2 separate regions of the Homo sapiens genome follow, and region 2 is linked to region 1. Evidence: fine-mapped expression QTL. A gene starts in region 1. The other region holds a variant in brackets. All regions are shown on one strand. Distances are from middle to middle.

Region 1 (5,370 bases):
TTACCTCCCAAAGTGCTGGGACTACAGGCATGAGCCACTGCGTCTGGCCACTTAGTATATTTTCAATCAGCAAATACAAATCTACATAAAAATTTTAATGACTTTTTTTGTACTTTTCGACATATGACTATATCACAATGTATTCAATCTTGTAATATATTGTACATTTATTTCTAACATTTAGTGACTATAAACAATGTTGCAAAGAACTTTTTTTTTTTTTTTTTTTTTTTTTTTTTTGAGACGGAGTCTCGCTCTGTCGCCCAGGCTGGAGTGCAGTGGCGGGATCTCGGCTCACTGTAAGCTCCGCCTCTCGGGTTCACGCCATTCTCCTGCCTCAGCCTCCCAAGTAGCTGGGACTACAGGCGCCCGCCACTACGCCCGGCTATTTTTTGTAGTTTTAGTAGAGACGGGGTTTCACCGTTTTAGCCGGGATGGTCTCGATCTCCTGACCTCGTGATCCGCCCGCCTCGGCCTCCCAAAGTGCTGGGATTACAGGCGTGAGCCACCGCGCCCGGCTGCAAAGAACTTTAAAGTTCATATCTGTGTACTTTTCTAATGTCTTTTAAGATGAATTCTCAGATAGAATTGATCAATTTACTTTCTCATCTGTATCTATAAACCTGACCAATATTGAGCATTTTTTTTTTAATTAGGTGAAAATGGCATTTTATGTTGTTTTGTTTGCATTTCTTATGGCTTTTTAAAAATAATTATTGGCCATTTATAATTCTTCTTTAAAATCACCTGTTCCTGTTTTTGGCCATTTTTATTTTGGAGTCTTTGAGGTTTTTCTTTTTCTTTTTCTTTGTTTTTTTTTTTTTTGAGGCGGAGTTATGCTCTTGTTGCCCAGGCTAGAGTGCAGTGGTACGATCTCTGCTCACTGCAACCTCCGCCTCCCGGGTTCAAGCGATTCTCCTGCCTCAGCCTCCTGAGTAACTGGGATTACAAGCATGGGCCACCATGCCCGGCTAATTATTTTGTATTTTTAGTAGAGACGGGGTTTCTCCACGTTGGTCAGGCTGCCCTTGAACTCCCAACCTCAGGTGATCCGCCCGCCTCGGCCTCCCAAAATGTTGGGATTACAGGCATGAGCCACGCGCCCGGCCGAGGTTTTTCTTATCAACTGGGAAGAGATCTTTATATATTGCTGATAGTAATTTGTCACAGAGTTGCAAAATCTTTTTTTCCCAGCTTTCTTTTGCCTTTAGAACATAGCTTTTTTCTGAAGTTAATTTGGAAGAATAGTCATGATAGCAAGCACATTCCAGTAAGAAAGAGTAATGATGAGAAATTTGCCCTCATAGATATAGAATGTATTATAAAGGTATCTTCATTAAAGCATGGTGGGATTGGCACAGGTGCACACAGAGAGATCAATGTATACAAGTCAGAAACAGCTTCAAGTATAATAGTTCTATAGGCGATGAAGGTGCCAACTAAAATCAGTGGAGAAAACAGTGTTTGGACAAGTGGCTATTACAAAAATTATCTTAGGTTTCTTCCTTACCCCAAAAATAAATTCCAAATGGATCAAAAGATTTTTCATTTAAAAATGAAAACATTTTTTATCCTCTTGTAGTGGACAGTAACAAAAAAAAAGTGCAATTTGTAACAAGTACCTGAAAGGATGTATGCGAGTTAATGACATGGAGGTGAAGAGAGGCTCGGAAGGGTATTCCAGGTGGAGAGAACGGCCAGAGCGAAGGTTTGGAGGCTGAAAGGCAGCAACGTGCGGATCCTAAAGAGGCAGGGTCAGGAATCGAACTCAAGACGCTCACAATGGAATCCAGGGCTGAGTCCATGCCCGCCCCCACAGGGATCATAATTATGTAAAATAGCATTTTTCCCATATATGGTACTTAATATCTGTCCTTGTGGTGGGATGACATGAGACTGAGAGCACAGCTCGCGGGGCGGGGTGTCAGAGTTCCAGACCTTCCCAGTCGGCTCCCGCAGGGCCTCGCCCCGGCCCAGGCAAGGCACCAAAACCCCGGCCCGGAGCTCTCCGCGCCCCGAGTCGCCGCCTCCTGATTGGATTCCCCCTGTGTCAATCCTTGTCCTAGAACCTGGCTGTCCGTTGGACCCGCCCTAGAGGGCGGGGCTCCCGCCTAGGAAGCGCGGGGGAAGGTGGAGCGGGTGGAGGTGGGGCGGAAAGAGGATGTTGAATCCCCACCCATCTGGCCGCAGAGGCTCCGCCCACCCCCTTTCCACAGGCCAATACGTCTGCCCATCAAGGCCAGGCGCGGCCTGCAGTGGGTGTAGCAGGAAGGGGGCGGGATTGTGCCCCAGGCTCCGCCCCGGAGCCGGCTCCCGGCTGGGAATGGTCCCGCGGCTCCGAGGGCGGGGCGGGAAGGCGGCGAGGAGCCGAGCTGGGTGCGGTGAGGCGCGCAGATCACCGCGGTTCCTGGGCAGGGCACGGAAGGCTAAGCAAGGCTGACCTGCTGCAGCTCCCGCCTCGTGCGCTCGCCCCACCCGGCCGCCGCCCGAGCGCTCGAGAAAGTCCTCTCGGGAGAAGCAGCGCCTGTTCCCGGGGCAGATCCAGGTTCAGGTGAGCGAGCCCCACCGCGGTCCCGCCCCGGGCAGGCGGCGGCGGGCGGGCGGGGGCGAGACGCGCTGCCGCCAGGCCGACTGGTGGTTCTTGGGCTCAGTGCGGCCCGCCACCCGCGCGGGCGGGGGCGAACGCCGGCGGCTCAGGGCCCGGCACCGCATCCTTCCCAGGGGGACCGGGACCCCCACGCGGGCGCTCGGGGAGGGCGCCGGCAGCAGCGAGGCCTAGGGGTGCAGGGGCGGCCTCGGGACCCGGCGCTCCCCGGCGCCCCCCGTGTCCCCCGGCGCGGTCTCAGGACTGGGCACTGGAGCCGACCTCCCCCAGCCGCTGGGGCACGCGCCCCGCCCTCGCCTCGCCCAGGCCCGACTCGGGCAAACTTTTTAACCCCTTCCGGGAGCCGCGGCCCCTGGGACGCAGCCTCACGGGTTGGGAGCCCGGGGCAGCCGCTCCCGTGGAAGTTTCTGGCGTCTGAGGCACGGAGGTAACGGGCAGCGGGCACCGTTTGGCAGCTGTCAGGGCGTCCTCCTGAGTCAGAGTCGGACCGTCCCGCTGCAGACCTTGCACCCGGCCCGGTTTCCGCCTCCGCGGCCGACTTCCTCATTCGCCCGCTGCCGTCGGACTGGTCGGGGAGGGCCCGGGGGAGGTGCGGCGGCTGCCCGGACAAGGGGGACCCGGCGGGGACCCGGGCGCGAGACAGGAAGGGCCACCCCCAGTCCCTGCTCCAGCCCTCGACCTCCGACTTCTGATCCTCGGGGGAGGGAGGCCCGGAATGCAGCAGCCGTCGGGGCCGCCCAGGCGTGCACCTGATTCCACCGCACCCAGGGGCCATCCCGTCTGGGCGGGGTGCGGGGGCAGCTAGCTCTGCCGTTACGAGCAGGCCTGGGCGATTGCATCTTTCCTGTTTGAGCCAAATCGGAGTTTTCTATTCTCCACTCCACGCACCCGCTTCCCTGTGCTGGGGTCCTCACCCCATCCTGTTCTGGGGCCACGCACAGGAGACAGGACTGCGGCACCCTCATTCTCCAGGGAAGCCCCGCTGTTTCAAACTGAGACTCAGCACCCCCAGCACTAGCTTGCCGGCTGTCCTGTGGTGGGGGGCAGGGTGAGCGCACGGCCCCACCCAGCCGGTGTGGAGAGAAGACTCCTTGGGAAGTCCCAGGTCGTAGAGGCAGGCGGCTGTCTCCACCGGGCAGTTGAGAGGCCCAGCCACTTCTCGGTTCACTGCGCCCTTTTCTGGGTTTAACAGGATTTCAAAGTGACTGATGAGTAACCGTGGAAAGGGAAGAGAGCCTTAGCTCCTTCTCCGTGCAGCGCAGCACTGTGGCCATTCTAACTACACTGTCTGGGCCAGTGTTTGGCTCACCTGATGGCTTAGGAGTCCCTTTTTGGTAAGGAGGGAGGCCTTTTGAGACAATCACTCAATTAATAATAGTCAGTTTATATACAAGGCTGCTATGTGTGGGGGAAGGGGACACAGATGTGTAATTGAGCAAATATTTAACTGCCCTCTCTGTGCCAGGGACTCTGCCAGGTGGTGGGGGGGTGGGAGGTTGAGTAAGACCTGGCCCGTGCCCATGGGCACTTAGGGGAGAACTGAGACAAATCTGTAGATGAGTCTAACGTGAGGTAGAGATGACAGGGACCCCGGAAAGGTACTGTGAGTCATGGGGATTGGGAGAAGGGAGCCAGACTGCCCTGTGAAATCCCCGGGGCCCTGCCTCTGCCCTTGGGGAGTTTACAGTCCTCAAGGGGAAAGTGGCAGAACCAGTGAAATACAAAGGCAGCCTGTGATGTGTGTCCCAAGTATGCCATAGACAAAGGACTCAGGAATTTCAAGGCTGAGAGGGGCCACTTCTCTTGGGCAAGGAGGAGGCTGCTACAAGGGAGAAGCACATTGCAGGTTTGGCAAACTGAGGCAAGCATGCGGTGTTGGAAAGTGAGGAGCCACTTAGTGGATAATTGGGGGGTAATTAAAAACATGGAGAGATTGCTCAGTGTAATTTGAGAGCCACTGCGCTCTGGATGACTGTGGGGTGACACCAAAGAACTTCAGTCTCCACACTCAGCAAACCCTGGCAGCGCAGGTGGGCAGAGCCAGGTGTCTGGAGAGCCGGCATTGGCAGGCTCTGGGGAGCTCCCCAGCCCCGGAGAGAAGGGCAGCATTCGGTGAGGCTGTTCATCTGAAAGGTTCAGGAGGGTAGAGGAGAGGGAGGGCCCTGGCTTTCTTGCTTTTATTTTTAAACTTTTTAACCTAAGGGGTTGGAGATGGGACAACTTCTCTCTCGTAGGATGAAGGACGCATGTTAATCACAGCCTGCCTTTTGCCCGCTCTTGCTCCAGAAAAAACAAAACAAGGATCTGTTAGCTCTTTAAAAGAAGAAAAACACACTAAAAAAATGCAGCATTGTTGTGTAGCCTGGTAGGGTATTGCTAGAAACCAGGCTGGCTGTTCTTCCTTTACTTCCTCTTCTAGCTAATTCTTCAATAAAGTACTTAAGACAGCCCTTACCAGCTTGACATCTTTATTTCAAAAGGAGAGGAGGGGTTGGCTGTTGTTTTCCTCTGAGCCTGGCCCTACCCTTCTCTTGGAGGGGGAGAAAGAGAAACCCAAAGCAAAGGAAAAAGAGAGAGAGAGAAAAAAAAAAACCCGTGCCTTGACAGCTTCCTCCCAAGCATCATGTTCCAAAAATATTTAGAATAACAAAATCTGTGTGTCGTCGTAATTAAACAAACGTCCTAATTTACTGAGCATAAAACAGCATCTCTGCCTGCTGGGGCAGGAAGTGCATTTCCCTTTGTGCAGCCCCAGAGAGTCACTG
Region 2 (5,370 bases), 110 kb after region 1:
CTTTTGGTAGTCGGAGCCCCCGCAGTCGTCAGCCTCCCTGACGTCTGCCACCAGCGCCCCCACTCCTCCTCCTTTCTTTGCTGTTTGCAATCACACGTGGTGACCTCACACACCTCTGCCCCTTGGGCCTCCCACTCCCATGGCTCTGGGCGGTCCAGAAGGAGCAGGCCCTGGGCCTCCACCTCTGTGCAGGGCACAGAAGGCTGGGGTGGGGGGAGGAGTGGATTCCTCCCCACCCTGTCCCAGGCAGCGCCACTGTCCGCTGTCTCCCTCCTGATTCTAAAATGTCTCAAGTGCAATGCCCCCTCCCCTCCTTTACCGAGGACAGCCTGCCTCTGCCACAGCAAGGCTGTCGGGGTCAAGCTGGAAAGGCCAGCAGCCTTCCAGTGGCTTCTCCCAACACTCTTGGGGACCAAATATATTTAATGGTTAAGGGACTTGTCCCAAGTCTGACAGCCAGAGCGTTAGAGGGGCCAGCGGCCCTCCCAGGCGATCTTGTGTCTACTCTAGGACTGGGCCCGAGGGTGGTTTACCTGCACCGTTGACTCAGTATAGTTTAAAAATCTGCCACCTGCACAGGTATTTTTGAAAGCAAAATAAGGTTTTCTTTTTTCCCCTTTCTTGTAATAAATGATAAAATTCCGAGTCTTTCTCACTGCCTTTGTTTAGAAGAGAGTAGCTCGTCCTCACTGGTCTACACTGGTTGCCGAATTTACTTGTATTCCTAACTGTTTTGTATATGCTGCATTGAGACTTACGGCAAGAAGGCATTTTTTTTTTTTAAAGGAAACAAACTCTCAAATCATGAAGTGATATAAAAGCTGCATATGCCTACAAAGCTCTGAATTCAGGTCCCAGTTGCTGTCACAAAGGAGTGAGTGAAACTCCCACCCTACCCCCTTTTTTATATAATAAAAGTGCCTTAGCATGTGTTGCAGCTGTCACCACTACAGTAAGCTGGTTTACAGATGTTTTCCACTGAGCATCACAATAAAGAGAACCATGTGCTACGAGCCGTGTCTGTAGCATTTGTCTGCGGCCAGGGGGCCCTGGACAGGACTAGGCCTGGCTTCTGCAGCCAATGCCGGCTCTGCATCGTCGGGAACCAGATTGGCTGAGGCGTAGGCTGAGCTAGCTGTGGGCGGTTGTGCAGAAAAGCTAAGATGGAAAGGTGGGCTAGGCCAGATCCAAGGAGGCTAAGAGCATCTTAGAAACCTTGGTTCAAGGCCGAGCACGGTGGCTCACGCCTGTAATCCCAGCACTTTGGGAGGCTGAGGCAGGGGGATCACCTGAGGTCAGGAGTTCAAGACCAGCCTGGCCAACATCTCTACTAAAAATACAAAAAAAATTAGCCGGGCGTGGTGGTGTGTGCCTGTAATCCCAGCTACTCAGGAGGCTGAGGCAGGAGAATCGCTTGAACCCGGGAGGCAGAGGTTGCAGTGAGCTAAGATTGTGCCACTGCACTCTAGCCTGGGCGAGAGTGAGACTCTGTCTCAAAATAAATAAATAAAAAAATTTAAAAAAGTGGACACTATCTGGGTCAGCTTAAGAAGGTGACCGATTTTTGGCAAAACAGCTGCATGCACATTCCCTGGCCCTTAGCTTCCTATGTGCCACCCTGCCCTGTCACCCTGGGCAAGTCACTCCCTTCCCGGCTAGCTTCCTTGTCTGTTAAGTAAAGTACACTGGATCTTTGCTGCTGGATGGCGGTCCTTGCACCAGAAGCGTTGGCTCCACGTGAGAACTGCTTAGAAACTATTTCAGACCCCGCCCCCAACCCTCTGAATCCAACTCCACTTTAGCAAGACAAGATCTACAAACGATCTTCATGGCATTTTGTCAGAATCTTTTTTTTTTTTTTTTCCCTGAGATGGAGTCTCACTCTGTCACCCAGGCCGGAATGCAGTGGCTCAATCTCAGCTCACTGCAACCTCCGCCTCCCAGGTTCAAGCTATTCTTCTGTCTCAGCCTCCCGAGTAGCTGGGATTACAGGTGCCCGCCACCATGCCTGACTAATTTTTTTGTATTTTTAGTAGAGACAGGGTTTCACCATGTTGGTCAGGCTGATCTGAAACTCCTGACCTCCAAAGTGTTGGGATTACAGGCGTGAGCCACCACACCTGGATTTTTTTTTTTTTTTTTCTGAGACAGAGTCCCTGTCACCCAGGCTGGAGAGCAGTGGAGCGATCTTGACTCACTGCAACCTGTGCCTCCCAGGTTCAAGTGATTCTCGTGCCTCAGCCTTCTGAGTAGCTGAGACTACAGGCGTGCACTACCACACCTGGCTAATTTTTGTATTTTTAGTTGAGATGGGGTTTTGCCATGTTGGCCAGGGTGGTCTCGAACTCCTGACCTCAGGAGATCCACCTGCCTCGGCTTCCCAAAATGCTGGGATTACAGGCATGAGCCACCACACCTGGCCGTTTCACCCCATTTGAACCTTAGTTTTCTCCTCTGGGAAGCCAAATTAATAAATGTTTTTATCACAGGGCCGTCGTTGAAGCATGTATGACTATGTGTGTGAAAATGTTCTGCAAACCAAAAAGGGCTCAGGTGCTATAATTTTTTTTCTGCAAAGGTTGGGCTTTGAAAGGACTTTAATTAAAGATTTTAACTGTAAGATATTCATAACCTAAAATTGCCTTTTTAACCATTTTTAGGTGAACAGTTTCGTGGAATTACATTCACATTGTTGCACAACCACCATCATCCACAGAACTCTTCTCTTGCAAAACTGACACTTTGTACCCAGTAAACATGAACTGCTCATTCTCCCTCCCCCAGCCCTTGACAACCAACACTCTGCTCCTTATCTTTATAAATTTGACCACCGTAAGAACCTCACATGAACGGAAT[C/T]ATACAGCATGTGTCCTTTTGTGACGGGCTTATTTCACTTAGCAGAATGTCCTTAAGGTTCATCCTTGTTACAGCATGGGTCAGAATTTCCTTCCTCTTTTAAGGCGGAATAATATTCCCTGTGGGTACACGTACCATTTTGCTTATCCGTTCATCTGTCAATGGACACCTGGGTTGCCTCCACCATTTGGCTATGGTGAACGATGCTGCTATGAGCATGACTGTACAAATATCTGGTCAGGTCCCTGTTTTCATGCTGTTGGGTATATTCCCAGAAGTGGAATTGAGGGATCCTATGGTAATTCTATGTTTAAGTTTTCAAAGAACCGTCATATAGTTTTCCACAGCAGCTAAGTGCTATTATTTTATTTATTTATTTATTTAGAGACAGAGTCTCGCTCTGTCACCCAGGCTGGAGTGCAGTGGTGCGCTCTCAGCTCACTGCAACCTCTGCCGCCCGGGTTGAAATGATTCTCCTGCCTCAGCCTCCCAAGTAGCTGGGACTACAGGTGCCTGCCACCACACCCGGCTAATTTCTGTATTTTTAGTAGAGACAGGGTTTCACCATGTTGGCCAGGCTGGTCTCGAACTCCTGACCTCAGGTCCTCAGGTGATCCTCCCACCTCGGCCTCCCAAAGAGCTGGGATTACAGGCGTGAGCCACCACGCCCAGCTAAGTTGCTATCATTTTTAAGGTCATGCTTTGGCACCGCAATGACTCCAGACAAGAGTCTCCTTTGTCTCTTGGCTGCTGGAGGGAAGGGGATAGAGGTTGGCGCATGTCCCTTGGTGCATGTTCCAGAGATCCTGTTGCTGTGGGTGCTCACAGCACCCTCCCTACCCTCCACTCCTCATTTCTCCTGTTTGGGATCCACTGAGCTAGATGCTTCTCCCTCTCCCTGGGCTAAAGCTTATTTGCAGCACCCTCAGTACCTACTAGCAGAGAGGCATTCAAGCTGAAATCCTGCATCTATATCAATTACTCGATTACCTATTTCAAATCTGAATCCAAAAACTACTCTGTTAACTCTGTGTATGAGTCCAGTTCTCTTAAATGTTATATGTGCATCAAAATGAAACACACATTTGTCTAGACTTCAGCAGGAAAATATGAGCTTGATTGTGTTTGTCATTTTTATACCTACTTCTGAACCTTCCTGAAGCTGACACCTGTTACTCAGGGCCCAATTTTTCCATATGAGGAAAGACAAAAAGGATTGTCCATGAGACACTGCTAGTGGCCGGGCTGTGAGTGGCCGGGACCAGTGGCTGCTCCCTCAGCCTCCTATGGGGTCCCCAGGGGCTGTGGGCATGAAACACAATTCCCTTCCCCTGCACTTTGCAGTCCTAGGCTTGTTTGTCTCCGCTAGCCACTGATGCCTTCAGAAGCCCCCATTGTCAAATGCCCAGCTTGAAGCTCGCCACCTCCTTCCAGGGTGCCTTGAAAAAGAGCAGAACAGGGCGCTGGGGTCCCTGTCATGGTGCACACAGACAATGACATCGGGCATGACCTGGCCAAGCACACCTCTCCATTGGCGGGGCAGGGCGGGGTGGGGGTGGTGGCTGTGAGGAGGGCTGTCCACACTTCCAGCTTCCACTAGGTGGTGCTGGCGATGTCACCGCACATCTTCCAAAGCAATTTCAGGGTTCATTTCCCCCTTCGAGTTGGGTTTGCCTTCTCAGTGGCCGAAATTGCATATGGACCCAAGATTTTGGCCCAAGCCCCCTCCTCTGGAGCTGCAGACATCCTGGGTGAATTTTCCTGCGGTGTTGATGGTGAAACTGAGCCCTATTCTTAGTCACTAGATCCTCGGAATCTCCAAATGGATGGTCTCTGCTCACGTCCCACGTCCCTGAAGTTAAGAGACACCTGATTCTCACCTGGATTTGAGTCTGCAGTCCCCATTCTGGTTGCTCCACTATGAGATTACGTTCAGGGAGTCTGTCGTCAACCTAAAATAACAACAGAAAGGGAGTCTCTGAAGATAACAAGTTTATTCTGGAATGAGCAGAAGGATTTGTAAATCTGGGAATACATGATGTGCCAGGACACCCCATGGTGGGACCACAGGCCGACTCAGGGAGACAAAGGAAAGCAGAGGTGGTGTTTTTTTTTTTTTTTTTTTTTTTTTTGCCCCAAGACGGAGTCTCGCTTTGTAGCCAGGCTGGAGTGCAGTGGCGCGATCTCGGCTCACTGCAACTTCCGCCTCCCGGGTTCCAGCAATTCTCCTGCCTCAGCCTCCCAAGTAGCTGGAAATACAGGCATGTGCCACCATGCCCGGCTAATTTTGTACTTTTAGTAGAGATGGGGTTTCTCCATGTTGGGCAGGCTGGTCTCGAACTCCTGACCTCAGGTGATCCATCCGCCTTAGCCTCCCAAAGTGCTGGGATTACAGGCGTGAGCCACCACGCCCGGCTGAAAGCAGAGGTTTTTAAAGCCAAAATGGGGAGAATTATGTAAGTTATTTTAAATAATGATCCCTAGGTACAAGAATTAATAACAAGGGTCACCTTA

Evidence for each region. PIP is the estimated chance that this variant, and not a neighbour inherited with it, causes the effect. A credible set is the group of variants that fine-mapping cannot tell apart.
Region 2: its variant is the best candidate, but not a certain one, in a credible set for the expression of MYH9 in whole blood (TOPMed, PIP 0.56).

Annotation. Positions count from the first base shown.
Region 1 is chr22:36,384,988-36,390,357 of GRCh38, reverse strand. It overlaps MYH9 (myosin heavy chain 9), which reads left to right and starts at 2,391. Exons shown (of 41, transcript NM_002473.6): 1 at 2,391-2,551. It overlaps MYH9-DT (MYH9 divergent transcript), which reads right to left and starts at 1,764. Exons shown (of 3, transcript NR_183573.1): 1 at 1,623-1,764. RefSeq lists enhancers at 2,080-2,374, 3,998-4,047, 3,805-4,518, 4,558-4,747, 4,519-5,232 and silencers at 2,168-2,747, 2,778-2,857, 3,138-3,367.
Region 2 is chr22:36,276,920-36,282,289 of GRCh38, reverse strand. MYH9 (myosin heavy chain 9) reads left to right here. Exons shown (of 41, transcript NM_002473.6): 41 at 1-1,010. Among named protein-coding and RNA genes, the nearest start is that of MIR6819, 7.3 kb to the left of the region's middle. The variant C/T (reference allele first, on the strand shown) is at 2,857.